Homo sapiens: one gene and its partners. The protein of the gene in region 4 purifies or fractionates together with the protein of the main gene of each other region. This does not show direct contact. Each region holds a gene or a part of one and is shown on either strand. Other genes may lie near its edges.

What was found.
Region 1: the proteins of CYB5D2 (region 4) and NPTX2 purify together in Homo sapiens (affinity purification with mass spectrometry; 2 studies listed by BioGRID and IntAct, with this or other methods). This does not show direct contact.
Region 2: the proteins of CYB5D2 (region 4) and ABLIM1 purify together in Homo sapiens (co-immunoprecipitation; 3 studies listed by BioGRID and IntAct, with this or other methods). This does not show direct contact.
Region 3: the proteins of CYB5D2 (region 4) and NPTXR purify together in Homo sapiens (affinity purification with mass spectrometry; 2 studies listed by BioGRID and IntAct, with this or other methods). This does not show direct contact.

Annotation. Positions count from the first base shown.
Region 1 is NC_000007.14:98,612,329-98,620,287, reverse strand, and holds the start of NPTX2 (neuronal pentraxin-2 precursor), read right to left. Parts: upstream 3,004-7,959; 5' UTR 2,827-3,003; coding exon 2,401-2,826; intron 646-2,400; coding exon 429-645; intron 1-428. UniProt on the Homo sapiens protein: Likely to play role in the modification of cellular properties that underlie long-term plasticity. Binds to agar matrix in a calcium-dependent manner.
Region 2 is NC_000010.11:114,431,263-114,438,285, reverse strand, and holds part of ABLIM1 (actin-binding LIM protein 1), read left to right. Parts: intron 1-361; coding exon 362-442; intron 443-1,912; coding exon 1,913-2,026; 3' UTR 2,027-7,023. UniProt on the Homo sapiens protein: May act as scaffold protein. May play a role in the development of the retina. Has been suggested to play a role in axon guidance.
Region 3 is NC_000022.11:38,827,012-38,834,034, forward strand, and holds part of NPTXR (neuronal pentraxin receptor precursor), read right to left. Parts: intron 1,502-7,023; coding exon 1,276-1,501; intron 1-1,275. UniProt on the Homo sapiens protein: May be involved in mediating uptake of synaptic material during synapse remodeling or in mediating the synaptic clustering of AMPA glutamate receptors at a subset of excitatory synapses.
Region 4 is NC_000017.11:4,146,191-4,153,213, reverse strand, and holds part of CYB5D2 (neuferricin isoform 1 precursor), read right to left. Parts: intron 3,324-7,023; coding exon 3,183-3,323; intron 1-3,182. UniProt on the Homo sapiens protein: Heme-binding protein which promotes neuronal but not astrocyte differentiation.

The DNA of each region.
Region 1 (7,959 bases), on a different chromosome or scaffold from region 4:
GCAAACCTACAACTTCAAACCCAAGCCACCCAGTGGTTTGGGGGTTGATGACGCAATCTGAATTATCCCCTGATCCCTCCCACTCTGTCTCCTGTGGGAGAAACTTACTCACCACAGTGTGAGCAGAGAAGAGAAAGATACACAGAATCCGCTGCCAGGACTAGTTAACAAAGGACTGAAACGCCCGTGTGGTTGCTTATCGAAGCTGGTCCTGGACACTTTCACTTTTCCCTGGATAATGCCAGTGGGGCTGGCAGCTCATTCCTGAGATGACCTTGTTCAGTCGCCTTTATTATTTGCTCACACACTCGGGAACCAGGCCCATGTGGTGTCACAATCCCTGCTGTCCATCAACCAGAATCGCATGTCTGACCACAAGTGGTGAAAATCAGGCCACTGCCAGACAGAGAAACAGGCCAGGCACACACCTCGCTCCAGCTCGGTGACCCTCTGCAGCAGCGCGTTCAGGGTGCTCTCGGTCTTCTGCCGGTGAGCCGAGGTCTCATTGTGCAGCAGGGACTTCTCGTCCTCCAGCTCTGCCACCTTGCGCAGAAGCTGCCTCTCCAGCTCCCCCAGCCGCTGCTGGAGCACCTCGCGGAAGTCGCCGGGCAGCCCAGCATTGGACACGTTTGCTCTGAGCTGGTGCTTTCAGCCACCGGGGAGGAGGGAGGGGCACAGAAAGAGTTAAAAAGAAATTGTGAAATGTGGCTGTGATGGCCCGACCACACAGGGAGAAGCTTCCAAAACGCAAGCCCTGAATCTTGCCACTGGCAGGCAGGGGAGCATCTCACTGATGCTTTTTTGGTATGGAAAAGATTTCAAAGTCAGATAAGAATTACTTTGCTGCAATATTTGAAACTTGTGAATCTAATTTTCCCTTCTCAAAAAGCCGTTTTTCTCCTCTTACTAAAAAGTCAATATTCTAACCAACGCCTAGAATTCTATGTTGGGTAGAGACCAAAACTCAGCTCCAGGATTTTTTTTCTTTTTTAAGAGTAAATCGATGGTTACACAAAGCCAAGGAGCTTTCACCTAGAAATGAAAACAGCCCCCAAGTTCCGGTCTGGCACCAAGGTAAATAACTATGCATGCAGAGATGTTTCTGGAAAATGACAGATCTAAAACGTTGCTATTCTGAACTCCAGCAATCTTTGTTTTTAATGCTGTTTCTAAATCCTCACTTCCTATTTCTCTTTCTCCCCTACCATCATGTGGTTCTGGAGGCTGTGGCAGGCTGCCTACCCATGAGTTCATGGCAAGCTATTTACCTTTCTCCACAAAGTGTTCCAAATTGTGAAATGCACATAATGGGACCTGCCTCATGCCATTCATTGTTCCAAGGATTAAAAAATTAAATGATGTGCCTGACTCATATTTAGTGCTCCAGAAATGTTAGCTGTTAGCAATCACAATGAATCAGGGGATATACAGATGCTGGAAATACTGTATTCAGCCCTCACGCCAAAAGAAACCCTAGAGTCATTTTTGCAATAATTACCACCTGTAATTTAAACCTAGTTTTGCTGAGAAGTATTTTCACAAAGGCTATTAACAGCAGTGTCCACACTTCTTAAAAAGGGTGGAGCCTAAAGATGAAAAATAATTGAAGATTTTTCTCTCAAAGTTCCAAACTGCACGCATTTTCAGAGATAGAGATGAGACGGAGGCGGGAGCGGGGGGCGGGGGGGGGGGACGGAGGGGGAGGGGGGGAGGGGGGGAGAGAGAGAGAGAGAAGGGAATGAGGTCCCTTCCCCTGAAGCAATCCGGAAGAGCACCTTAAAATGGTCCAACTTGCAGACACGGGAGTCTTTGAAGTTAACCAGAGGTTGCCCCTCTAATGCGCGCTCTGGGGTCGCCGGTGACCCCCTGCGCTCGCCTCCCTGCGACCTCCGCCCCCAGACTTCCGCCCCCTCTAGCTCAGCCTGACCTGATTTAAAGAAAGAAACACCACATGCCCGGGGCAGCTGACCTCCCGCGGCAGCCTCGCAGCAACCCGCACGGCCTGCGGGAGCGCATCCCGGCTCGCGGAGATTTGGAGATTTGCAAGAGGATAGAGGCTACCGCGTCCCCGGGTATTTGGCGCCCGCGGCTTGGCCGTCTGGGTTCGCTAGCCCGGACCTCGGGAAGTGCTCGGCGGATCCCGCTGGCAGTCCCGACGCGCGGGGGTGGAATTTAAACGTTTCCTTCCAGCAAGAGCAGCGGTGTGGGAAGGGATACCACGCAGGGGAGTTCCCGAGCAGGATCTAGATCCCCGCCTTTCACCCTCAAGTCCAGCTCACCCCCACGGACGATCACACCCTCCCCAGGGCCAGGCCCCCTTTCCCCATCCTCCCGAGTCTTCCGCCCCCGACTCGGGAGCGTCCCCATTCCAGGTCCCCCGCGCTCCCCGCGGGCCGCTACCTCGAGGCTCTCCAGGCGGTCCTTGAGGGTCTGCAGCGAGCGGCTGAGCTGCTCCACGACGTGGCCGGGGTCCCGCGGCAGGTCGCCCATAGTGTCCTTGCCCGTGGCCCCCGCGCCGCGCGCCTTGCCGCCCGCCAGCCCCTCGCAGCGCGCTAGCTTGCCCGTGAGCTCGCGGATGGCCTCGCGCTGCGCGCCCAGCGTCTCCTTCTGCTGCACGACGGTCTCGCGCAGCTGCAGCACCGCGGCCCTCAGCTCCTCCTCGGGACTCTGCGCGCCGCCCTGCATGGGCATCGCGGGCAGCGGGCAGCCGGCGTGCACCGCCTCTGGGGGCAGTGCCGTGCACACGAAGCGGCTACCGGGCGCCGGGCTGTCCTGGGCCCCAGCGGCCACGGCGAGCGCCACGCTGGCGGCCAGCAGCGCCAGCATCCCGCCGCCGCTGCCGCGCTCAGCTCGGCATGGGCGAGCGGGCGCCGTCGGGGCGCTCCGCGGGAGGCGCCTTCGCTGCTGGCAGTAGCCGCGCTGTCGTCTCGAGGGTCGCGTGCACCGCGGGGCAGAAGTCTCCTGCCGTCTCACAGCCGCACCCACCGCGCTGCTCGGCACTCTGGCCTGCCGGGTCCGCGCGCCCTTTCTTAAGCTGAGGGGCGGAGGGGGCCGGCGTGTGGGGCGCGCGCCACGAGCTCTGATTGGCTCGGCCGGGTGCGCGTCACGCAGTGGGCGGAGCGGGGCGGGGCGGGGGCGCTTTCCGTTGCGCGCCTGGCGGCCGGGCGGGAGCGTGGGCCGGAGCCTGAGGCGAGAGCGCGAGGTCCCGGGCTCTGCCTCAGGAAAGGAGGCCTGAGGTGGAAAACGACACTGGGGCTCTCGAGAGCCTCGGCTGGCCGTGCCCAGGCGCCCCTCGAACCCACCCGAGGACGCGGGCGTCACAGGCTGAGGAGAAAGTGGGAACCCCTCGGTGTCCCGGTGCCCCTTTCTCAGGGTGGCTTCTGGCGCGGCACGGGGCCTCGCTGCGCGTTTGCCGCCGCCCTCAGGGAGGCGTTTTCTCCAGCAGGAGCAGCCCCCCAGGCGGGACTCGAACCCCGACTGCCATCGCGAGCCACCCCCGCGGCAGGCGTGGGCCTTCTCGTCAAGGCCCGGCCACCTCACTCTCGAGGCGGGAAGGAGCCGCACGACGGCCGCCTCCGGATGCAACGGTCCCCGGGACGCGCTCCATGGCCCCGCCTCCACCCCCCGCGCCAACTCGGAAAACGCTCGGGAAGAATCCCGGGGGCCTCGGGGACCGGGACCAGGACCAGGCGCCGGACGCTGATGGGAAGGAGGGGACACCCGGAGTTAGGGACAAAGTCACGAGGCCACTCGCAGAGCCCTCGCGCGCGTGTTCATCGACTGCCCCCTGGGCGGTGACCTTATTCAGCAAGACCTGAGCTCAGGGGCGGGGTGACATCTAACTGGAGTCATCATGATGGAGCCACGTGGTCCAACAGTGCCCGGTCCTTGTAACCAGGAGGGCCCGCAGTGTCACCACTTCCTCGAAGTGAGGCCACTGCCCTCAGCTTCTTGGAGACAGCAGATATGAGCAGAAACCCCCAAAAGTCAGGAGCAAATTTGTTTCAGAATCTCTCCAAATCTGTGGCTTAAAACAAGTTCAGAGGGATTTTGGTGCACAGCTACAGACTGAGCTGGTTTACTGCACATTTATAAATGGAAATCTTTATTTCTTTTCCTCTCTATGTTTTTAAGAAATCCTGTTGCAAGGTCATTAATCACGTTATCCATTATACCACAAACAAATGGATTTGTCACTTGTGCGCAGAAGCCGAGGTTGATTCTGAAAGCAAATTGTACCAAAATAAATGAAATTATTATGATAATATAAACTAGACTGCAGTGATTAATCTCTAGAAACCAAATTCTGACCTGCTTTGCACTTCAAACAATAGCTTCTATTATGTAAATAGTTGTGGGGTTTTCAAGGACATTATTGCTAAATTATAAGAAAAGTTCTATTCTTGAAAATCTCTTCGTGGATAAAAATGAGAGACAGGAACCTGGTCTGCAAGGTATCCAAAGCAGAGGACAATGGAAGTAATGATGGTTCAGGTAAGAATATTCATTAGCAGAAAAAGGTATGGATGGGAGATTTGGGGTGAGTAATGGGCTCATGTTTCTGTTAGCCTGCATCCCCAGGAGGTGTCAGTTTCACCTTGTTAAGTATGACCTTGACTGGACTCATTCTTCCTACATCCTTTTTCAGCTGGATGAAAACTCGAAAAAGTTCAAATAAACCTACATATGCACAAATTACAATAATGAAGGCAACAGGGTTGCAAAGCACTTTATGCCTTGTTACATTTCAGATGATTCATAAGGCACCAAATCCAGACGTTTTCAAAATTATTCAGATAACGATGTGACTTTTCCATTTTCACTCATAGCTTTGATGTTCCTCTTTACTTGTAGACCTAGGTGGCCCTTAATTGGATGTGACAATAGAGTATTATCGTTCCTGTATTGTTCCATATATCCTTTCTTGACACACAGACTGATACATTCATATTTGCAACTACTTGAAGTAGAAGCTTGTTCCTTTAATAATTAAACAAAATCAAGTATCTTTCCAGAATTCTAATTTCCTCCTGAACAAAGAAAGCAGTGTACAAGAGTAAAAATAGCATATATCCCAATATAATTACTCCTAAACGTCTTAAAAGAGATTCCAGTATGAGAAGTGATCAGTGAAATTGCCAAAGCTCAAATGGAAAGACCCAGACATTTGAAATGTTATTTTCTTTGGAGGCAGTATAATTAGAGGCTTAGTTAACAGAGTACATGCTATTTACAGTTTTATTTTATCTTCCTGGTGCAATGAAAAGCCTGCTGGCTTAGGAATGAGGGATCTAGTGCTAATTCTAACTCTGTCACTAGCTAAGTGGTTTGGGGCAAGTCATTTCTCCTCTGGACTTCAGTTTTCTTGCATATAAGATAAGGGAGGGGCGGGGGTTGGGCACGGTGGTTCACACCTGTAATCCCAGCACTTTGGGAGCCCGAGGCAGGCAGATCACAAGGTCAAGAGATCGAGACCATCCTGGCCAACATGGTGAAACCCCGTCTCTACTAAAAATACAAAATTTAGCTGGGTGTGGTGGCGCCCGCCTGTAGTCCCAGCTACTTGGGAGGCTGAGGCAGGAGAATCGCTTGAACCCAGGAGGCAGAGGTTGCAGTGAGCCAAGATCATGCCACTGCACTCCAGCCTGGTGACAGAGCGTGACTCCATCTCAAAATAATAATAATAATTTTAAAAAGATAAGGGGATTAGACGCAACTGTCTAAAGGTGCTTTGGCTGTACTCAAGAGCATGATAGTTTGAAAAAGAAGGAATCACTGTTGGTGTGAGGAACGTTTCAGAAACTTGTTTTTTCTGTGTGTGTTATTAACCACCTGTAGCCAAAGGTGAATGTGGAAAGGCAGGGTCGTTTTGTAGTACAGCAGGTAAACCTTCATACACGGAGACGCCGTAGTTGTGGTTAAAACCTGCTTTCGACAACACGAAAGCTCATACTGGGTTTACTCACAGCACAACAACTTTGTCTACCTGAAAGATCCTGCATGTATGACTCATGCTACCCATGAGGATGGTTATGTGAGTGGCAGAGACCAGGGCCCACAGATTTTCCTCCACTTGAAAAGTCGTGCAGATCTGCAGCAGTGAATCAGCTCCACCTAATCTCTTAGTGTAACTGATGCTGCAGCATAGTAACCACCCACTCATTCACTATGTCGGCTGGTCCCAGGTCAGCTGTGAGCCCAGTATGGACTTAAACCGTGTGCTGGGAATCCTGATGAGCTCATTCCGCCTCCATTTTATTGCCCCATCTGTTTGGTTCTCTTGTTCTTCTCACATGCATTTTTATCTTGGTCTTCTGGGAAATGTGCTAATTTCCACCATGGTGTGAGAGGATCCCATCTCATACTTTCTTACATTTCCTTCTCTCTTTCTCAGTGCCACTTGGGAAGTCAAGAATGAGAGTGTGAGCTCTAACAGAATCCAAGGACAGCTTCCTGCAAACATGATTCGGGAACTGTCCTCGGTGCTGAATTTCAATTGGAAGGGGGAAATAGACGTGTGTGTGTGTGTGTGTGTGTGTGTGTGTGTAAAGTTCAGTGCAGATAAAATAGAATTTGGAAGCTCCAGAGGATCCCTACTAACACACATTTATGCTTAAAATGCTAAGACGCTTTCAAGAGTGGATTTTTTTCCCCACTAGATTGAACTGCATGGTAGTGTGGAAAGAGCTTGAGCTTTGGAGTCAGACAGCTTTAGTTTCAGTCCCAGTTTTATGACTTGCCACTTTACCTTGAGAGAATGATTTAACCTCTCCCAGCCTCAGTTTTCTCATCTCTAAAATCAAAGCTAAATTTACTACAAAATATTGTTAGGCTTGAGTGAGATAATGTAAGTGAACATGTTTGGCATATAGCCAGTGCACAATAGATGATAATTGTCCTTTTCTTCCCCTTTTCTCCACTGAATTTAGACCTGTATTATGTAAGTCCCTTTAAAAACAAAGTTGAAAAAAATTCTTCCCTTTCTGCAATATTCTTTAGAGTTAAATAAGGCAAGAATACTTAAGAAAGAACAGGCCAGCCTCCCAAGAGGAAAGACAAGGGATGAAAACTTCAGGAAAATATACTGGTGTCTCAGCAAGATAAAGATATACTACTTTGTGGGTTTTTTTTTTTTTAAAAAAAAGATAAAGCATGGTATTATTGAGCTTTAATCAGAGGATTCAGTCAAAGTGAACTGTTTCACACCTACACTTGGGATATATCACCAGACTATGTGCCTGGACCCAACTAAAAAATTTGTAATATTTAACATCTCAGTGATTCTGAATTTGTGTTGCTACGGGACCCAAATAGATATAAGCCCCTCAGATAAAGCAAAATGTTCTTGCTTCAGTGCATCTGTGTTCTTCTTGAATAACATATTTCTGGCTAAATTTTGGGAGCATGTGAGATGAGACACTGAGTTTCAGGAAGTGGTGTCCCTGTACAAGTATATTATCACATTTAGCTAGAGAGCCGTGATTTAGGGGAATTGGTTGTTCATATTACTCAACTGATTTCAACAAACCAAAAAAGGCTTTTGGTGGCATCCTCTGATTTCAAGCAATAGAACGAGTCACCGGATATACCAGGGATAATGTCTTACCTCAGTTTTTAAAAGTAAGGGATAATAGACTGGGAGTGGGAGGAGGCTGAAGGAAGGAACATCATCAACTTAGTTTGCTTTGAGAAAATCTTCTATGAATGTAGTCTCAATTTCTCTATATTAGGAAACACCAAGAAAGTGCCCCACTTTCACATAACTTACAAGTGGTGAAATTGGCCTATTTCTGATAAAGACATGTGGCTCAATATCTCTGTATGATTCAGGCACACAGGTAGCTTGTATGAATCTTTGAAAGTGAGAGTTTGAAGATATTTTATAGAATTTTGAAGACTAGGAAACAGTTTGAGAAAGGTTAAAATGTCATATGGCAGCTAGATAGGAAGACTAGGTTC
Region 2 (7,023 bases), on a different chromosome or scaffold from region 4:
TGTCTACAAACAAAAAAAGAAAAACAAAAACAAAAAACACGTGCCTGTAATTTCCATTATCTTCTAATGTTTACCTTCATCCCAATACATAGTAAGTTAGTGTTCTGCCACTCAACAAAGCCCCCCTAAGGCTCAGTGCTACCTGAGACACTGGTGGAAAGTTGAGAATGTCTAAGATTCTGTCCCTGTCCCCTGGAAACTGGAGCTTCCACTGGCCTTGCAGAAGGAAGACCCATCACTCGAATTCTGTCATGACAGTCTCTTGGAAGCTCTATCTTGGGAGTACTAGCGTTTAGGTGGATTCTGCTTGTTAATAAAATGGACTGTGGTGTTCTAGAAGAGGTGTTTTCTTTCTTCTCAGATATTTCCATATGAAATGCTCATGGTGACCAACAGAGGGCGAAACAAAATCCTCAGAGAGGTGGACAGAACCAGGCTGGAGGTAAAACAAAACCGAAAAATCCAGTCCCAACTGCAGATCCCTATGCACTCCCCCAACTCTCCCCTAAGCAATGTTTTATTTCTTCAGTGAAAACAAAAAAAAATTATAAAGATCACCCTCATGTCATAGGTAGAACTAAGAAATAACTTTGGAGAAAAAAAATATCCAGGTTTTCACTTAGATCAGCATAAAAATGCCTGGTAATATCCAGAAGAATGACCCAGGAGGTGGGCATGGTGGCTCACGCCCATAATCCCAACACTTTAGGAGGCCGAGGTAGGCAGATCACTTGAGGTCAGGAGTTCAAGACCAGCCTGGCCAACACGGTGAAACCCTGTCTCTACTAAAAATACAAAAATTCACGGGGCATGGTGGCAGGTGCCTGTAGTCCCAGCTACTTGGGAGGCTGAGGCAGGAGAATCGCTTGAATCCAGGAGGTGGAGGTTGCAATGAGCCAAGATCACACCACTGTACTCCAGCTTGGGCAACAGAGCCTGACTCCGTCTAAAAAAAAAAAAAAAAGAAAGAAAGAAAAAGAAAAAAAGAATGACCCAGGAGACACAGAATGATTTCAGTCATTTTCTTTGAAACTTGATGTTGCCATAATTATGGCTGGTAATTCAGAATGGGAGTCGCTATTTCTCTTGAGATAGTCTCAGATCCTTATCTTCCCCTGAGCTGGGGTTGAGTTCATGGGAGGCTGTGGGAGCGGCAAAGGCTCTCAGGAGAGACATTTATACTGATTTATACTGGACAAGTTTCTTTCTTGGCTGTTTCCACATTCCTTGTTGAAGGGTTATCTGGGTACATGTACCCAAGATCTCCTTAGACATGGAAGACTAATTTTTGTATTATAGTTTTCCATCCCAATGATTTTAATTAAGAAAAACCCTGGCTGCCAGTCTCCGAAAGAATGCTTACTTTTTCCTGACAAAAGGCAGTACCTTGGCGTAGAGGTACAGAGAATAAAGGCTGCAGGATCTTGGGGGAACTTTTCTAGGGGGGAATGACTGATGGGAAGTCTTCTCAGTAGAACAGACATCCACCTTACCCCCTATTCCTCAGCCAGGAGGAAGCCCTGGGGCTCCCCAGGGACCACGCTGGAGGTCATTTTCTTTGGCTTTCTATTGCGATAGTCCATTTTCCCTGCATCTTCTCAACGTTCCAAGGACCTGGGATGGAGTTGTCTCCAATGTAATAAATCACCTCTCTGTGTCCCATCACCAGTCAGTGTTATTATTATAATCCCCATTAATACTCTGCCAGCTCTTTTATCTGATGGGAAGGGCTCCTCACCTGGCCCAACCAGGTAAGGGATACTGATGTCACAAGCATTAAAGATGGGCTCCTCTCCCGTCCTCCTGCCTTGTTCTTCAGAATGACTCTGTATAAACTATAGAGCAACGCTCAAGGCCATTTGTGTGGCCATCAGGACTGACAGCAGCTCTTTTTTTTTTTTCTTCTTCCCAGCGCCACTTAGCCCCTGAAGTGTTTCGGGAAATCTTTGGAATGTCCATACAGGAGTTTGACAGGTTACCTCTTTGGAGACGCAACGACATGAAGAAAAAAGCAAAACTCTTCTAAGTCCCACTCGTGAATGGCAATTAGAGAAAGGACTGACAGTGGCGGTGCCCCATAGGATGTCATATTGAGGCCCAAACTTGATTGGAGAATTTGCAAACTACCGTCGCTCAGCAACACCAAAAAGAGAAAGTCTGGTTAAAACACCATGAGTCAAATGTCGGGCCAGCCAACAGTAACACTTGCCAAGAAGCATGGCGTAGAAATTTCTATGTTCCGAAACACAGAGTAGTGTCCACATGTGAGCTTTTCACATTACCTTATGTATACAACAGGAGCTGCGTTGTTTTCTTCTTTTTCTTTTCCTTTATCTGTTGTCCAACAACAGTGCTGACTGTCCGGATAAGAGCTGGCAAGTGCCCTTAGGATGCCGCATGGGAAAAATCGGTTATCATAATTTCAAAGTATAAATATATTTATTAAGTAGCGCTGCGGCTAAGAAGGAAGAGTGAGGGGTCTGTCCATGGGGTGGCAGTGATTTCACACCCGCCTTTCTTGAATGGCTTCGTGTTACTCAGCCGTGCCCTGGCAGGAATGGAACTCCATCAGGGAACAGGGCAGCTCTGTTTGAATGGGGTGAAAAACAGCAAAATTAATTCTTAGCAAGCTCCTTGTTCTCTACTGTTCACCGGGACCTGGCTGGCAAATGACTTAGCTATTAGTATATTTAAAAACTGTTCAAAAGCAAAAGAGAAGGAACAGGAATGAAAGGAAACCTTCCCTTAACTCTTTCTGCTTCCCATAGCAGGTCTGGTTCCTGCTCCCCGCCTAGGACAGGAGCTGTCTGGAGCTCCACCTTTGCAAAGAAAGGAAAAACACAAATTGCCCCCAGATTGGCCCAGTGGCATGCCATTAGGTGATTTTGCATAGGGGCCATATCATTCATGGCCAAAAAAAACCAAAAAGCAAAAAACAAAAACAAGTCCCATGTCCTACTGACTCTAGTTCTTCCAGTCGTTATCCTCTGCTGTCTCTCTGGCATCCTATGAATCAGATCAAGCCCATGCTGTTGTTGGTTTTTAAGGTTTCTTTCAATAATAGGCTAAGGAAAGACATGTTTTTCTCTTTTAAATCTCTGCAACTCCAAAGTAGACTCCTTCGAACGTATTTAATTTGGCCTTTTCAGCTTTCTTCTTGCCCAGCTCTGTCGAATTCATGGGTGTGTGTGCACATGTTGGTTTCACTCACCCAGAGTAATTTTGTGAGCATGCATGTGCTTTTTAATTTCTGCTTGAATGTTTGTCCTGCTGTGTTGCAGCTTCTAAAGACATTGTCACCGAGTGTGTGTGACTCAAAGATCAAGAGTGAGGCTAAACTGCGACCCCAACATCACTTCCTTCATGGAAAGGTGTTGGCGCTGATGTAGCTCATGGAAGGATCAGACTGGGAACCACAGAGGAAGGATGAGGTGGGATGTGGAGGTCAGAGCATCTCACGAGAGTCCCTCAGGCTCTGCAACACTAGATTCGAATATGAGCCTAGGGTTTCCCCAACACGTGCGTGCATATGAAACCACATCATGATTCCCGACGTGAGTTAGATGAGGGAGAGTTTGTGTAACTCCACACCCAGGAGGGTAAGCCACTTTATTATCATGCTTTGGGGCTGTGCTTAAGAATTTAAGCTCTGTTTTAAAGCCGAAGAAGAAAACATTTGAATTTACCTTCATATGCCACTAAGAACAAAAGCTCTGAAGTTCTTCCTGCTGGCACCAAATATTAGGATTACAAGCTGTCTCTCTGACACCAGTGGTAAAAAAGCAAGTAGAATAGTTTCTGAGTCTGTGTTGCAGCCTCTGACACGTGGCTCACCGCTGTCATTTGGGGGATGGAATGAACAGTCACTGTTCTATAGCATCCTCCTGTGCTCTTACCTAAGGAATCTAAATTGTCCTAGCCTTCCATTGCTATGCACTGAATGAGGACTACTCTCGTGTGTGTGTGTGTGTGTGTGTGTGTGTGTGTGTGTGTGTGTGTGTGTGTTGGATCTACTAACATGTTTAGCAAATGGCTCTGACAGGGTGGCCATGAGCAGATGAGACCAGCTCTTGCTTGGTTGGAAGCCACACTGCAGTTTGCAGTTTAGCCTTTGGTGTCTCAGTGGCTTCTTGCTTATTCCATGCTTTTTCTATCCCATCCTCTCTCTGTGCCCTCCTGCAATGGCAGCCTTGGCACAATGCCTGGGTGTCCTCATCCTTGCTTTACTCTGGAAAGTGTGGGGATGGAGAGGATGGTGCATTTCCAGTGCTTCCTTACCTGTCAATAACAATGGTGGCCACCTGGGTCCCAGCACTTGGCTGGTGGAGAGATTTTTTTCATTATGGAGCTAATAAAGGGTCCCTACGTTTTACATTGATTAATGAATTATCACCCAGACATGTGCAGATGAAATGTCAATATAAGAAAAATCAAGGTATTTGGGAAACATGGGCATAATCAGGTAGTTTTGCTAAAATTCCTCTTCCTTGGTCTACATAAAGAAGACATGGGTCTGTCATAGAATGGGGACATTAGACTGAAAACTGGGACAACCCCCTTCCTTATTTTATAGAGACTAGGAGTTAAGGGGCCTGCCTAAGATTGCAGTGATAAAGAACTGAACCCTAAATCAGCTCCCACTAATGAAACCCTGCTTTCCTTGTATCTTTTAAACTCAGTTCTGCATCCAACTTGAGAAGAAAAAAAGCTTCTTTCCATATCAAGTACCATATGAGTTCATTTAAACTGCACCTTGCAGAAATGCATTGCCAGAAAGCACCAGTAGCCTCCTATCTGCAAGCAGAGTAGTGCTCTGCTCTGGGGAGGGGTCATTGGAAACCATAATGCAGAGTGGGCCCCCTACTCCATTTCCCAGCAAAAGGCTCCAGCTGGAGGGATGGGTTGTGGGGCAACCTGGTTCCTGCTAACTGCCAGATTGAATGTGTGGGCTAGAATGCCTGCACATTTAGTTAAACTGGGCTCAGCATGCTTGTCCTCAAAATGTCCATCCTGGTCACAGCACACAAGATGGCTATTGGTCTGCTTTTACCCTACCCTGTACTATACATGAAAATTCCAGTTATTAACACACTCAAACTGGTGGAGCTTGTTCACCCTAGGAAGGGGATTGTATATATGGCAGGCTTCCCTGGTGCCGATGTAAAGGGCTACATTTGGGAACATTTGACTTCCTTGGGACTCTTAAGTGCATAATGATGGCATGAAGTAAAAGGGGCCTCAATGATGATAGGAAAATCAGTTCTTTTAAAATTTCTTCAAGAAAATCCAGGCTATCACATAGTCTTTCTGTGTGACTTATTAGGAGATAGGAAGAGCATTGGGAAACTTGCACAGCTAGCTATGCATCTACATTTTGGTTTGGGGTTAGTTATGAAATGTTCTTAATATGACGTGTTCAATAACTTCACATAAACTTCCTGTTCTCCAAAACCTCAAAGAGATAGAGTTAATGAGTTGTTGTTTTTTTTTAAATGGGGGTAGTTTTCTATCTGTCATGGGCTCTAGCATCTACTCCGCTACCCAATTCTGTCATCTCCAAGCTGAGTTTCCTCTTCTGAGGCAGAGGCTGGAGCAGTTCTTTTTCAGTTCTCATCCTCTCCATCCCAATCCAGTATATCAATCAACTCTAACTCGGAGACGTCTAGCTGGCAATGTTTCTAAAACTTTCACTGGATTTCTTTAGACATTGAAGCAAACATTTTTTTCTAAGAATTGCTTCTCAGATGATGATATCAAATGTATATGCTTTTGCAAGTTTGAAAAGTTCAAATTAACCACTTTTGACTAGGTAAGTCTTTCTAAAAACCATTTAAAGCTAACTGGGTCTTAGCATCCTCCTGTGTATGGAAGAGACAGGTGACCGCTCCAGGTTGGGTGCTCACAGAACCCTTTTCCTGACTCTCATGGAAGATGGTGGAAGGAAAATAGACTGTCTCATCAACCCTCCTGTGTCCTCTGAAGCAATCTCAGTTTTTATTAACCACCTCTTCTGTGTTTCTGGTAGCTATTTAACCTGTATTTAATCTGTACTTCCTATGCCAGCCTCAATTTTATTTGATTTTTACAATTATTCTCTTCTAACCAATGAAGTGTTTGTCAGTATGCCCCAAAGCTTGCTCTTTTGTGCTCCCTTTTGAATAACTTTCTATCCAGAAAAAGAGATTATTTGGGACTTGAGATTTGCAGTGATACCAACTTATAGCAATGATGTACTTTAAGGGAACTACCCAACTATGTTGTGATAGAAGAAAGAGAAACCTTCACTTTGGCATTTTTTTTTAATCACTGTTTATTTTTCTGTTTGCGGCCCAGGAAGCAGTGGGAGGTGGTGGCAGATATGCTTTGCATATGGATTGTTATGTTTTTATTTGGGCAAGTTTAATCATGGAAAACTCAAAAAGAAGGGGGGAAATGGTCAGTTTAAGCCAAAAGAAACTTTCTAAACAATGTATAGGTACACAGCAAAATTAAACAAATCCAACAATTTCTGAAGCTTAGTGTAATTGAGTGGTGGTTGTTATTCAATAAAATTATTCCCAAAAGTGTTTCTCCTAAGAGTGCAGTTCCCATGAGTCACTTCCTGAACCCATTGACCAAAGGTGGACAGAGACAATCCTGTAGACCTTGACATTCAGAAAGATGTGAGCTGCTTACTGATCATATATGCATACGTTTCTTTACAGCAGAGGAAACCATTGTCCACAAAACTGATGTTCTTTTGGGGTTTTATGTACAGACTTGTCCAATCATGTGTGTGGTTCCTGCGAGTTGCTGATGACTCCGCATTGAAGCTCTCTGAGTTCTTTGATTTTAAGTTGGGTTTATGGAATTTTTTCAAATGTTGGAAGGTGTGTGGTTCTTCCTGCCCTCCCTCCCCTTTTGGAAATATGAAAGCAAATGTTTAGAAGAATTCCTTTTGAAAAGCTGTGTCGTGTTCCCTGTGAAACTGAGCAGGTGTGTGTTGGCGCGCTAAGTGCCACATGCTTGTGTGTAGAGGAGGAG
Region 3 (7,023 bases), on a different chromosome or scaffold from region 4:
CCGGGGTAGACAGGCCAGAGGCAGGGCTGAGGAGGGCTGGAGGTTGCTTCTCCTGTTCCTGTGCTCCACCTAGGATGCTGGCCCTGAGCCACCAGACCTGTCCCTCCCCTGCAGCTGTGCCCCTGCGATGGCCCCTCCATTCTGAAATTTGCTCCTCACCACTGTTTTCAAGAAGTAGCTTGAGGCCTGCCTCCTCCAGGAAGCAGCTTGGATATTCTTTCTTTTCTTTTCTTTTTCTTTTTTTCTTTCTTTTTTTTTTTTTTTTTGAGACGGAGTTTCCCTCTGTTGCCCAGCTCACTGCGACCTTCACCTCCCAGGCTCAAGCAATTCTCCTGCCCCAGCCTCCCGAGTAGCTGGGATTACAGGTATGCACCACCACACCCAGCTAATTTTTGCATTTTTAGTAGAAATGGGGTTTTGCCATGATGGGCAGGCTGGCCTTGAACTCCTGACCTCAGGTGATCCGCCCACCTCAACCTCCCAAAGTGTCGGGATAACAGGCATGAGCCACCATGCCTGGGCCTGGATTTTCTTCTCCTGAACCCCTGTTCCCCATGTAAGCTGGTCCCAGCTAACTGCTCACCATTTCTCCTGTTCTCCCCAACTTGTCTGTAAGCCTCTTAAGGGTGGTCTTCACAAGAATTGAAAGCTGAAAGGTCTTTGAGAGCTCATGAGTCCTAAACCCCTATTTCTCAGATGAGGAAAACTGAGGCCTGGGGAAGGAAGTGAACTTCTGAGGTCACAGAGCAAGCCAGAGACAGATATGCAACCAGGAGCCAGGTCTCCTTATGCTTATACCTGTACCCTGCCCATTATGTTCCTTTGACCCCTTGGCAGTGCCAGGCACAAGTGTTAAACAAAATCCTGACCAAGTCATTGAAAATGCTATTTTGTGGGTGGTTAAATGTATGGTTGTGGAGTCAGACCTTGTTTGAGGTCCAGACCCGCCACTTTTGTCTGTGTGACCTTGAGCATGTCACTTGACTTCTCTGAGCTTCGGTCTTCTCATCTGTGAAAACTGTGGATTAAATCAGCTGATGTATCAAGTACTTAGCCCACTCCCAGGACACAGTAAGTGCCAGAAAATGAGATCTGTTAATAATGTTGATAATGATAACAATATCCCCCAATGATTCTCTCCACTGTGTGTTCCACAGCCTCCTCCCCACCCTCCAGTCTGTCGATGTTAGCCTCCGGGGAGCATGGATATATTTTTTGAATGGCTCTGTCATCCTGAGGACCCCTCCAATGCCCTCTGCAGGACCCAGGACCCACCGTGCTCCAGCTCAGCCACACGACCCTGCAGGACGTCCAACTCCTTTTCCACTTCCTGCCTCTGCCGGCGGCTGCTGTGGCTGAGGGCCACACGCTCCTTCTCCAGTGCCAGCACCTGGGCCAGCAGCTGCCCCTCCAGCTGGTCCATCTTGGAGTGTAGGCCGGTGGGCACAGCAGAGACTGGGGCTGGGGCAGCTGAGAGGTTCACACGGGCTGGAAGCTCCTGCTGTTCACAGGGCAGAGAAACAGAAATCAACTGAGGGGAGGAAGGACAGGCTGGGAACACTCAGATGCCTACCGCCCCTGCTCAGTGACCCCAGGGGAGCCTCAGCTTCCCCAGTATGCAAAATGGGAATGACAATGGCCAACATCAGGCAACAGATGCATCCTGGGTCCCTGGCAGGCTCTGTTCCTGGTGCTGGCACATGACGGCGAGCAGCAGGCAGAGCTGGCCCCGGCCCTCAAGGACAGCTCAGGCTGTGGTGGGGGTGTGGGGCGTGGCCATGAGTGCTGTGAAGGTCCCCCAGGTGGTTTCAGGGTGCAGCTGGGGCTGAACGCCCCACCCTAGTCCTTCATAGCAGCAAGGCTAGACACTGATAGGCTGGTAAAGGGGCGGACCATCTTAGTCTTCATTCCCTCACTCAGCAAGCTTCTCTAGAACGGTCCTTGGCAAAAGGCTCTGTATGGCCACTGGGCCCACTCAGGGCGTGAAACAGGGACTTCTGGAGCAGGGCCCCGGTGGCTTGACCATACCAGGGTGACAGGTGGTTGAAATCACATACTTTGGAGTCAGACAGCCCAGGGTTCAAAACCAGCTCGGTAACCAATCTGCTATGTGACTCTGAGAAAATATCCTGACTTCTCTGAACTTGTTTACTCAAAAGAGAGCTGCACCTATTTGGAGAGTTGTGGGGAGGACTAAGGATTAAATATCAATAAACAGAGCCTGCTTATTGCAATTGCTGTCTAGGGCAGGGTGTTCCAGGGTAGGCTCTGACATCCCCCATCCAGCCCGGGATGAGGTCTAAGTGTTCAGAGTTCCCCATGACATGCCTGTCTTATCTTAAGACCCCAAGGGCAGCAGAACTGGGGCAGGAGCTGGGAGGGTTTCCTTCCCCTTCTCCTGCTGGAAGAAGGCCCCTCTGGGGTGGAGGAACGCAGGTGAGGCCGCAGGTCCAGACTCTTCAAGGGGACAGTCTGTGGCAGACATGTCACAGAAATGTCAGTAGGAGATTAATAATTCAATGAGCTGCTAGGAGCTAAATTAAACCTTCACCATCCTCCACCATCCTCCTGGATTCCCCCTCCTCCATGGTCCCCGCTACCAGGCCTGATGCTTGCGAACTCCCCAGGGGCCTGGGAAGTTTTTGCTCAGTCAGTTCCTTGCTCCCAGGCTTAGGCCCCAGACACGAACTCATTGCATTCTGTGATTCAGTCACTGAGCAAACATTCAGAGGGCACCCCCATTGTGCTGGGCACTGCCCCAGATGCTGAAGTTGTGGCTGGAGGCAAAACAGAAAACCAAGAACCCCACCTTTCCTCAGTTTCCTAAGCTGCGAGGGGATGGCCTTGCAGCCTGGGACAAGTATAGAATCCCCTGTCCAGCCTCACTGGCCCAGCCAATGGCCTTGTCAGTCATTTGCTGGGTGACACTGGACACTGCTGGTGGCTGCTGTGACTGAGGGCCGCGTGTTCCTTCTGAGCTGTGCACTCCTCCTTAACTTCTCTGAGCCTGTTTTCTAGCCATGGGACAAGGGGAGAAGTGCGTCCCCTGCATCAGAGTGCTGGGGGCAAAGGACCACTGCCATGCTCAGTGCCCGAGACTTGGGAGCTGCCAGTGTGGACAGCAATGTGACCTCATTTTGAGGAGTTGCAGGAACCGGCCCTCGGCTCTGCCACTGCCCCGTGAGAGTAGGGACAGGTGGGCTGACACTCCGAGATCATTTTTCCCCTTCTATAAGATGGAGACACGGAATGCTCAGCCTCCAGGGCTGGCCAGCATTAAATGATGGCGTGTAAGGGAAGTGCCCAGAGCCTGGCCCACAGTGGGTGCCGGGGGCATGGTTTTGGGTGCATGGGGTAGGTGGGAAGACTGAATGGGACGCTCTTGCTGCCGGCTGAGCCTTAGCAGACACCTTGCAAACATTCCCTCTCTGAATCCACTTAACATGCCAGTGTCCCCATTTCAGGGGCAGGAAAACTAGGGTGAGTTAACTAAGATCACACCAGGAGCAGGAGCAGAGCTGGGATCTGAGCCTAGCAGTCTGGCTCGCCCGCCCCCTCTGCATCACTCGCCACGCAGCCTCTCTTGGCATCTGCCAAGCGGCCTCTCCAGAAGCCCTATTCCCTCTCTGTCCCACCTGTCCCTTGGCTCCCATGGGAAAGGTGAGGTTGCTTCACAGGGCAGGGGGTCTGGTGCCACTCACACTCAGCAACCCCCCTCTTCTGCTGGCAGTGGGAGGGGCTGAGGATCAACCTCTCCATTCCAGGCTGTAAGATGGGGCAACAGACACAAGTCACTGTGGTCGTCCAGGCTGGCTCTGGAAAGGGACCCATGAAAGCAGCGGGAGAGGGGGGACTCTGGCCACCATTATCCACCCCCCCCACCTCTTGTGTAAGAGGTCACGGCCTCCCAGCCACGCAGATGCCTACTTGGCCCACGAGGATGGGGTGGAGGCCAGGTGAAGGTGGGCATGGGATGGGCGAGGAGCCTTACAGTGCACTCCCCGCTTACATTCATCTTTGCTTTCCCGAGGGCTCCTTCTGTCAAGGTGCCTATAAACCCTGACTCTGGTGCAGACTAACCACAAAGCCTTGGTTTCCCCTCCTCTAAAACGGGAACAGGCTGGGCATGGTGGCTCATGTGTGTAATCCCAGCACTTTGGGAGGCCAAGACAGGCGCTTGAGCCCTGGAGTTCGAGACCAGCCTGGGCAACATGGCGAAACCCCATCTCTACAAGAAATACAAAGATTAGCCAGGCATGGTGGTGCATGCCTGTGGCCCCAGCCACTTGGGTGGCTGAGGCAGGAGGATTGCTTAAGCCCAGGAGGTTGAGGCTGCGGTGAGTCATGATCATACCACTGCACTCCAGCCTGAGCAACAGAGCGAGACAAAAAAAAGTGTGTGTGGGGTGAAACAGACTTCCTCTTGTTCATTCCCAGGACAGATGGAAGGATGGGAGGACAAGTGACAGGCCCTCATGGACTATAAAAGCATAATGCCAACTGTGGGGCTTGACTACATTAGCTGATGGGGCGCTCATTACCTCCAGAGCCTTCAGGTGACACTGGATGGCCCACAGGGTGACAGGGTCAGCCACCCACTGCATTCGAGATGGCTGGACTTCCAGGAAGCCTTGGACTGAGGCAATCAGCTCAAGGGGCGCATTTCATCTCAGGGCTGGAAGGGCGGGCTGGGGCAGGGTGTCCCTGGTCCCAGGTACTGTTCTGTCCTCAGTTCTCCACCCGCTCTGTGCCAAGCTTGAGGCCAGAGGGGCATGCGGGAGTGAGGCTGTGCACCGGGCCCATCATAGGCACTTGGCATGTGTTTACTCATGAATCCTCGCAGCTGCTCGCTGAGGCTGGCACTCTTCGTATCCCCATTTCACAGATGGGAAACCAAGGCAGGAGTCGTTTTGAATTGTCTATAGCAATGGGGCTGGGCCAAACCGATACCCCTGGAGCCAGCATCTCCTCTCTCCAGCAAAGGGAGAGAGGGAGGAAGACTTGCCAGGAAGAACAGAGGGAGGAAGATCTGCCAGCAAGAACAGGGAGTCGAGGCTATTTAAACAGACGCTGTTTGGAGGAGAAAACGTGCGGGCTGAGGGGGTGTGCGCTCAAGCTGTTCTTTTGTCAGAGCCACTGGCTCTGCAGCGGCCAGGAAGGCCATGGAGGAGGTGGGCTCGCCGGATCGTGTGTGAGTCCCTCCCCGTCCCAGTGTCTGAATCAGAAGAACACGACTCCCGCACCCCCACTTCCCATCTGCTGTGGGCGCAGGCTGTGCCGCGTGGGCTCCCGGCCCGATGCCAACTGGGCCCCTCACCTAAGATGATGGAGGGAATGATGACGCCAGCACCCCCACTCAGCTCCTGCTGGGGCAGAAAGGTGGAGGCTGGGAACCCATGGCCTGTCCCGCTGGGAGTCCGGGGTGGGGTTTGGCGTAAGTGTGCTGGGCCTAGAGCCAGAGCCCCTTGTTCTAGGCCTGGCTCAGCCATAATGTGCTGGGCTCATTAGCACTCAATCAGAATGCTAACGGCAGCAGCTGTCTCCATCGAGCACTCGCTGCATGCCAGGCCCCGCACTAGGGAAGATCTGTGCAAACAGTTCTAGGCTGCTCTCAACAGCCTGGGGAAGTAGGGAGGCCCACTCAGAGATGAGGGAACTGAGGCTCAGTGCCTGTCTAAGGTCACATACCTGTGACGCTGCAGAGCCAGCACTCCAGCCTGGCCTTCCTGATCCTGAAATCTGTGCTCATTCCTCAGGCTCACACTGATGGTCTGGGTCTGTTGGTTGATCTGCCAAGTGGGCACAGTGCTGGTTGCCCTGCCTAACTCGAAGGCAAGCAGGAGAGGTACTAATGGCCACGGGAAGTCTAGAAGATCCAGAAGGTTGTGTGAGACTATGGCGCAGGGCAGCTTCACAAAGGGAGACTGATAGGAGGGTCCTGCCAGCGTGGGGTGGCTGAGGCTGGGAGGATGCAGGGAAACCCCATCACCTTAGCCCCACCCGGGGTCTATTCCCTTGCTGCAGGGAGCAGAAGGCAGGTGCAGGACTCCAGGGCCAGAGTCCCATCCTCTGCACAGCCCACAGACTGTGCTCATTCCTCAGGCCTACACTGCTGGTCTGGGTCTGTTGAGGGTCAGGGTCCCACCCTCTGCACCACTGCCCCTGCCCAGGATCACCCAGGTAGTGGTACTCCCAGCTGGCAGTGAGGCAGAGGCTGTTCTGGGACGGCCAGACCACCAGGTTTTGCAACGGTGGGAGTTTGGGGTCAGAAAGCTTTCTCAGAGAAACCCCATCCTGCCACCCCACCTCCCTCACCAGGGGCAGACTGCAGGGGCACCAGGACCAGGTGGAAAGTGAGCAGCCTTCAGGGGGAGCAGTGTGGACCACGGCCCCTCACCTCCCCCATCCAACCATCCCCTGAGTTCTGAGTCCTGCTAGGGCTCACACCTGGGCTTCACCAGCTGAGTGGCCTTGTTATGTAACGGTGCCATGCCTCAGTTTCCCCATTGGCCCCAAAGGGTAAAAGAGTAAATCTCATAGCATCGTGGTGAGGATTGACTGAGTTCATAGACAGAAAGCGCTTAGTGCGCGGTAGGCATAGGAAGCATCACAGGCGTGTCTACTATTAATGTCGTGACTAACAATTTTTTTTTTTTTTTTGCGATGGAGTTTCTTTTTTTTTTGAGACAGAGTCTCGCTGTTGCCCAGGCTGGAGTGCAGTGGCACGATCTCGGCTCACTGCAGGCTCCGCCCCCCTGGGGTTCACGCCATTCTCCTGCCTCAGCCTCCCGAGTAGCTGGGACTACAGGCGCCTGCCACCTCACCCAGCTAATTTTTTGTATTTTTAGTAGAGATGGGGTTTCACTGTGTTAGCCAGGATGGTCTCCATCTCCTGACCTTGTGATGGGGATCAGCTGATTGGAAACGTTTGGTTCTTGAGCCTGGGCAGGGGCCTGGGTAGTAGTATTTATGCCTTTTTGCCCATCTGAAATACTTGACATGATTTTCTTTTAAAAACAGGAA
Region 4 (7,023 bases):
TGCTCTAAAGGAGCCAAAGCTCCCAAACGTATTACATCACAGTTTGATGCATGGTCCTATGTGGAGTTGTTCAATCTGTTTACTTGTCTATGATGGCTCTCTCTACTAGTGAGGCGCAGTACTCAGAACAGCTTAGCGCCAGGCGCAGCGGCTCACACCTGTAATCCCAGCACTTTGGGAGGCTGAGGCGGGCAGATCACTTGAGGTCAGGGGTTCGAGACCAGCCAGGCCAACATGGTGAAACCCTGTCTCTACTAAAAATACAAAAATTTGCTGGGCGTGGTGGTGCATGCCTGTAATCCCAGCTACCCAGGAGGCTGAGGCAGGAGAACTGCTTGAACCTAGAAGTTGGAGGTTGCAGTGAGCTGCAGTCGTGCCACTGCACTCCAGCCTGGGTGACAAAGCAAGACTCCATCTGAAAAAATATATAAATAAATAAAACAGCTTAGCATAGAGCATTCATTTTAAATACTTATTAGATGAATAAAGAAAGGAATCAGGGCCCGAGTCACAGGCCTGCAGTCTATGAGTTGGCCTGGCACAGAATTTCCCACTACGGGGGTTGGGGTGTCTGTGTTATATGGTGACAAGCCTGTCTTTGGTGAGTTTCTGACATGAGACCCAAAGAGAGGACAGTAGTAGCAGAGGCAACAGAGGAAGAGTTCTAGAATCTGTGTCATGAGAATGGTGATCACCAGTGGCTGCATCTCCAAGCCAATCCTGTATCCACAGCATAACCAAGGCCATCTTGTTTTCCCTTGAGGCCTGGCCATGTTGGCTGCCAAGATGGCTTCCTGGCTGTCCTCACTTCAGTATGTACCCTTACAATAAACCTTCATCCACTGATGTATCCTGAGGGTTTCTGGTAACCTGAAAGAGCCTAACATGGCCCCTATCCTACAGAATGAGCTAACAGGGGCAGGAACTGGACTCAATTCATCCCTGGTCCCCCTGAGGATGGAACCCGTAACTTATGAGTAGTAGGTATTCAATAAGATCCTGACATCAACTAAAATCCTTCTGAGGCATTTCCCGCCACATGCCCCACCCCATCCTCAACACATTATACATCATTCAAACAAGACCAGCTCACTTGTCACACCAAACGCATCCGAACACTTCCAGTGTGCTCCCAAATCTTAGTATGAAGTATTTGGCCTGGCATTCTTTGCCCATTTACAGGACTCTGTTCTTTTTTTTTTTTTTTTGAGACAGGGTCTCACTCCGTTGCCCAGGCTGGAATGCAGTGATGTGATCTCGGCTTATCGCAACCTCTGCCTTCCAGGTTCAAGTGATTCTCATGCTTCAGCCTCCTGAGTAGCTGGGATTACAGGTGTGTCCCACCACACCCAGCTAATTTTTTGTATTTATAGTAGAGACATGGTTTTGCCATGTTGGTCAGGCTGGTCTTGAACTCCTGACCTCAACTGATCCGACCACCTCAGCCTCCCAAAGTGCTGGGATTACAGGCATGAGCCACCGGTCTGGACTCCATTCTTATTCTTTTTCTTTTTTTTCTTTTTTTTTGAGACAGAGTCTCACTCAGCCACCCAGGCTGGAGTGTAGTGGTGCGATCTTGGCTCACTGCAACCTCCGTCTTCCAGGTTTAAGCAATTCTCCCGTCTCAGCCTCCTGAGTAGCTGGGATTACAGGCACCTGCCATCATGCCCGGCTAATTTTTGTATTTTAATAGAGACAGGGTTTCACCATGTTGGCCAGGCTGGTCTTGAACTCCTGACCTCAGGTGGTGATCCGCCCACCTCGGCCTCCCAAAGTGTTAGGATTACAGGTGTGAGAGACCACTCCTGGCTCTTATTCTTTTCTATTGGGTTTTCTTTTCTTTATTAACCCAGTAATGTTTCAACCTTGGTTTGGCAACTTCATTGGGAAAGGGAAGAACCCAGCCCTCTGAAGCGCAGGTGAGTAGAGGTCAGTGCCTTCGATGGTAGACAGGGTTATGGTCTCAAGACTGATCTTGGGCATACGAGAGAAAATGAAGAAAGGCGTGCTGCAGAGGCCCACAATGGATGGACACAAACTTTAGATATTATGAAAAAGCCATGATTGATTGGATGTGGAGGGAGCTGAGGTGTTAATAAAAATGCCAAGGTTCTCAGAAAAGGTAACTCAAGCAGTGATGACAGAAGCAGAAATTCAGAGGCATTAAGGAAAGAATTCTTCCAAGTTAGACCTGTTTCGATGGTGAAGTGATACTGGTGTTCCTCAGGAAGTCAGTCATGTCCAAGTAGGACTCCAGTGAGACGTGGGGGCTGCAGATAGATAGAAGAAAGGGCTACGGCCATCCCAGTTGTCAGTACTTGTGAAGCAATCTAGTGTTTAGTGTCTTTCGTTGAGGCTGGAGTGCAGTAGCGCAATCTCAGGTCACTGCAACCTCCATCTCCCGGGCTGAAGCGATTCTCCTGCCTCAGCCTCCTGAGTAGCTGGGAGTACAGGTGCGTGCCACCACGCCCAGGTAATTTTTGTATTTTTTAGTAGAGACAGGGTTTCACCATGTTGGCCAGGCTGGTCTTGAACTCCTGACCTCAAGTGATCCAACCGCCTCAGCCTCCCAAAGTGCTGGTATTACAGTCGTGAGCCACTGCGCCGGGCCTAGTGTTTAGAGTCTTTAACACTGCTTTAGGACACAGTTTGGTGTTGTCTCATTTGAGAAGCAAGTCCCTTATGTAGCATCAGTAAGTAGCAAGTGCAGTAACCTACACAGTGGTTTGATTAGCATAACTACCACCTGGGAGACAGCTCACTCACGAAGTTTGTCTCCTCCTAGAGGACCAAATAAAAGGGGATTTGTCGAAACACAAATTCAGGCTTCAAGCCCTTCTGGCTGTGTGCTGAAGCCAGATGCATCGAACACAGTGAGACAGGGAAGCTGCCCTTCTGGAGCTGGTTGTTCAAGGATGGTGCAAGCAACCACTGGCTATGGCGAAACTGAGGCCAAAGCAAGCAGCTTAGTAATCCTCTCCCAAGACTAAGAGTGGGGGAAGCAGGTGCCCATCCATCTCCTTCTGGGCGGCTCATCCCTATTCTAACGACCAGAATTTAAAGTAAAACAAATCCATGGCTGTTTTTCAGATTTTAAGCTTGAACCCAATCCCTAAAAAATCTCAGCCCCCTAAAAACACTGCAGACAACCAAATGAAATGTATGACCTATGGACGACTTACCAACACACACATAATTCTTCTCATAGAATGAAAGCCAATTGTGAAGTGTCAGCATCTCAGCGGCTGACAGGTCGGATACGTCATCCACGAGGCCTGCTTCAGAACAGTCCCCGGTCACGAAAGCTCTGGATGCGTCTCGGCCTGGAACAGAGATGTTTCCATCAGACCCAGGTGTAAACCACTGACACCATCCCCACTCAAGAATCTGTTTTCTTTCTTTTTCTTTTTTTTTTGAGACGGAGTCGCACTCTGTTGCCCAGGCTGGAGTGCAGTGGCATGATTTCAGCTCACTGCAACCTCTGCCTTCCGCTTTCAAGCCATTCTCCTGCTTCAGCCTCCAGAGTAGCGGGGATTACAGGCGCCCGCCACCACGCCTGGCTAATTTTTGTATTTTTTTAGTAGAGATGGGGTTTCACCATGGTGGCCAGGCTTGTCCTGACCTCAGGTGATCCGCCCACCTTGGCCTCCCAAAGTGCTGGGATTATAGGTGTGAGCCACCACGCCTGGCCAGAAACTGCTTTCTGAGAAACGTCTCTTGACAAGCCCTACTCCTTATCCCCAGGGAAATGGGGTCCCCACCACCTCCTCTGTGAAAGATGCTCCTAGACCTTGGACACACATCTCTTTGGCATTGGTCATATTCTTTCTTTTACCTTCGGCAAACTTTAACACAGCTGACCACTTCCCTTGGCCTGATTTTCCTCCTACTTCTCCAGCTCCTCACTGTCTACCAGCCTTAGGGGTCAATTACTGTCCACACCCTCACACTTGACAATCTCATCCACACCTGTGGTTTCAAAGCCCACCTACAGGCAAAGATAGCCACATCTGTATCTTTAGCTCAGATGTCTCCCAAGGCTCACACCTGTATATCCAACAACACTTAGACGTCTTACAGATATCACAAGATCAAAATGTTCACACTGGCTGGGCGTGGTGGCTAATGCTCATAATCCCAGCTCCTCAAGAAGCTGAATAAGGAGGACTGCTTGAGCCCAGGGGTTTGAGCTATGACCATGCCACTGCACTCCAGCCTGCGTGACAGGGTGAGACCCCATCTCTCTTAAAAAAAAAAAAAAAGTCCACATTGAAATAGTGATTATCAGCACCCTCACAGCCAGGAAACCTGTATCTACTCCAGTATTGCCTGTCTCAGTAAATGCCAACCAGTTGCTCAATCCAGGAATGCAGTTCTTTTTTTTTGTGCATGAGACGGAATTTTGCTCGTCGCCCAGGCTGGAATGCAAAGGCACAATCTTGTCTCACTGCATCCTCTGCCTCACGGGTTCAAGCGATTTGCCTGCCTCAGCCTCCCGAGTAGCTGGGACTACAGATGCGCACCAACATGCCTGGCTAATTTTTGTATTTTTAGTAGAGATGGGCCAGGCTGGTGTGGAACTCCTGACCTCCGGTGATCCACCCACCTTGGCCTCCGAAAGTGCCGGGATTACAGGTGTGAGCCACCGCATCCAGCCTGGGGAATGCAGTTCCCCATTTTTTTTTTTTTTTTTTTTTGAGACTGAGTCTCGCTCTGTTGCCCAGGCTGGAGTGCAATGGCGCAATCTCAGCTCAATGCAACCTCTACCTCCCGGGTTCAAGCCATTCTCCTGCCTCAGCCTCCTGAGTAGCTGGGACTACAGGTGCCCGCCACCACGTCCAGCTAATTTTTGTATTTTTAGCAGAGACGGGGTTTTGCCACGTTGGCCAGGCTGGTCTCGAACTCCTGACCTGAGGTAACGTTCCCGCCCTGCCCTCCCAAAGTGCTGGCATTAGAGGCGTGAGCCACCATGCCCAGCCTGCAGTTCCTAACACTTCCTTCATCCCTCACATCCAGTCTCCAAGTCCTGTTATTTTCTGCCTAAGCAGTGTTCTTGTGTCAGTCTGCCTGTCTCCACCCACATCTAAGCAAGCCCAGGCTGCCATCCTTTCTCACCTGAACTCCTACAGCAAACCTCAAGGAAGCCCTCCCTGCATTCATTCTTGCCCCACCAATCTGCTCTTCATACCACACTCAACTGATACTTTAAACACAAACTGATCACATCATTCTCCTGCCAAAGAATCCTCAGAGGCTTCCCTCTGTTCTATGAGAATGTCCAAATTCCTTAACACGTCATTCATTGTCCTGCACCAGCTGCCACCAACGCTGCCTTGCCAAATTTCTGTTTGTTTGTTTTTGAGACAGAGTTTCGCTCTTGTTGCCCAGGCTGGAGTGCAATGGCACAATCTCGGCTCACCGCAACCTCTGCCTCCCAGGTTCAAGCAATTCTCCTGCCTCAGTCTCCTGAGTAGCTGGGATTACAGGCATGCGCCACCATGCCCGGCTAATTTTGTATTTTTAGTAGAGATGGGGTTTCTCCATGTTAGTCAGGCTGGTTTCGAACTCCCAAACTCAGGTGATCGGCCCACCTTGGCCTCCCAAAGTGCTGGGATTACAGGCGTGAGCCACCACACCTGGCCACTGCCACGTTCTTTATTGTTCACTTTGCTCCCTTCCTCTCCTCCTCTTCAAATCGGTTACAGCCTCTGGTAACACCAGTACTTTTCCTTTTAACACTTTTCACAAAAATAATACATTAATTGTGTAATATCTATTTAATATCTATTTAATGTCTGTCTTTTCTACTAGTAAGTTTTATCAGGTAAGACAACACACCAAACTCATTTACTATGGATTCCCCAGTGTCTGGTACAGTGCCTGATCTTTAGTAAATTCCCAGTAAATATCAAACGAATTAAATACATAGTTTTTTTCTTTTTTGAGATAGAGTCTCGCTGTATCGCCCAGGCTGGAGTGCAGTGGTGCGATCTTGGCTCACTGCAACCTCTGCCTCCTCGGTTCAAGGGATTCTTCTGTCTCCAACTCCCAAGTAGCTGAGACTACGGGCATGGACCACTGTGCCCAGCTCACACAAACATTTGTACATGAATGTACATAGTGGCATTATTTATAACAGGCAAAAAAAGTAGAAAGAAACCAAAAATCCATCAACTGATAGATAAAATGTGGTATATCCATATTATTAGAATTATAGTATCTATAGAATATTTTCAGCCATAAAGGAATAATGCACTGCTACATGCTGGTACACCATGGATGAACCCTTAAAACATGATGCTAGGTGAAAGAAGCCAGACACAAAAGGCCACACGTATGACTCCATGAAATGCCCACAATAGGCCAATCGACAGGAAAAGAAAGTAGATAGTGGTTGGCAAAGGAAGGAATAAGGAGTGACTGCTAATAGATAAGAAGTTTCTTTCTGGGGTGAGAAGAATGTTCTAGAGTTAGTGGTGACATTTTTACAAATTTCTGGCTATACTAAAAAAAAAAACCCACCGGGCCAGGCGCGGTGGCTCAGGCCTGTAATCCCAGCACTTTGGGAGGCTGAGGTAGGCAGATCACGAGGTCAGGAGATCGAGACCATCCTGGCTAACACAGTGAAACCCCGTCTCTACTAAAAATACAAAAACTTAGCCAGGTGTGGTGGTGGACGCCTGTAGTCCCAGCTACTCGGGAGGCTGAGGCAGGAAAATGGCATGAACTCAGGAGGCGGAGCTTGCAGTGAGCCAAGATTGCGCCACTGCACTCTAGCCTGGGCGACAGAGTGAGACTCCATCTCAAAAAAACAAAAAAAACACTGAATTTTGGCTCATACCTATAATCCCAGCACTGTGTGAGACCTAGGCAGGTGGATCACATGAGGCCAGGATTTCCTGTCCAGCCTGGCCAACATGGCAAAACCCCATCTCTATTAAAAATAAAAAAAATTAGCCAGACATGGTGGCACACGCCTGTAATCCTAGCTCCTCGGGAGGCTGGGGCACAAGAATATTGAAC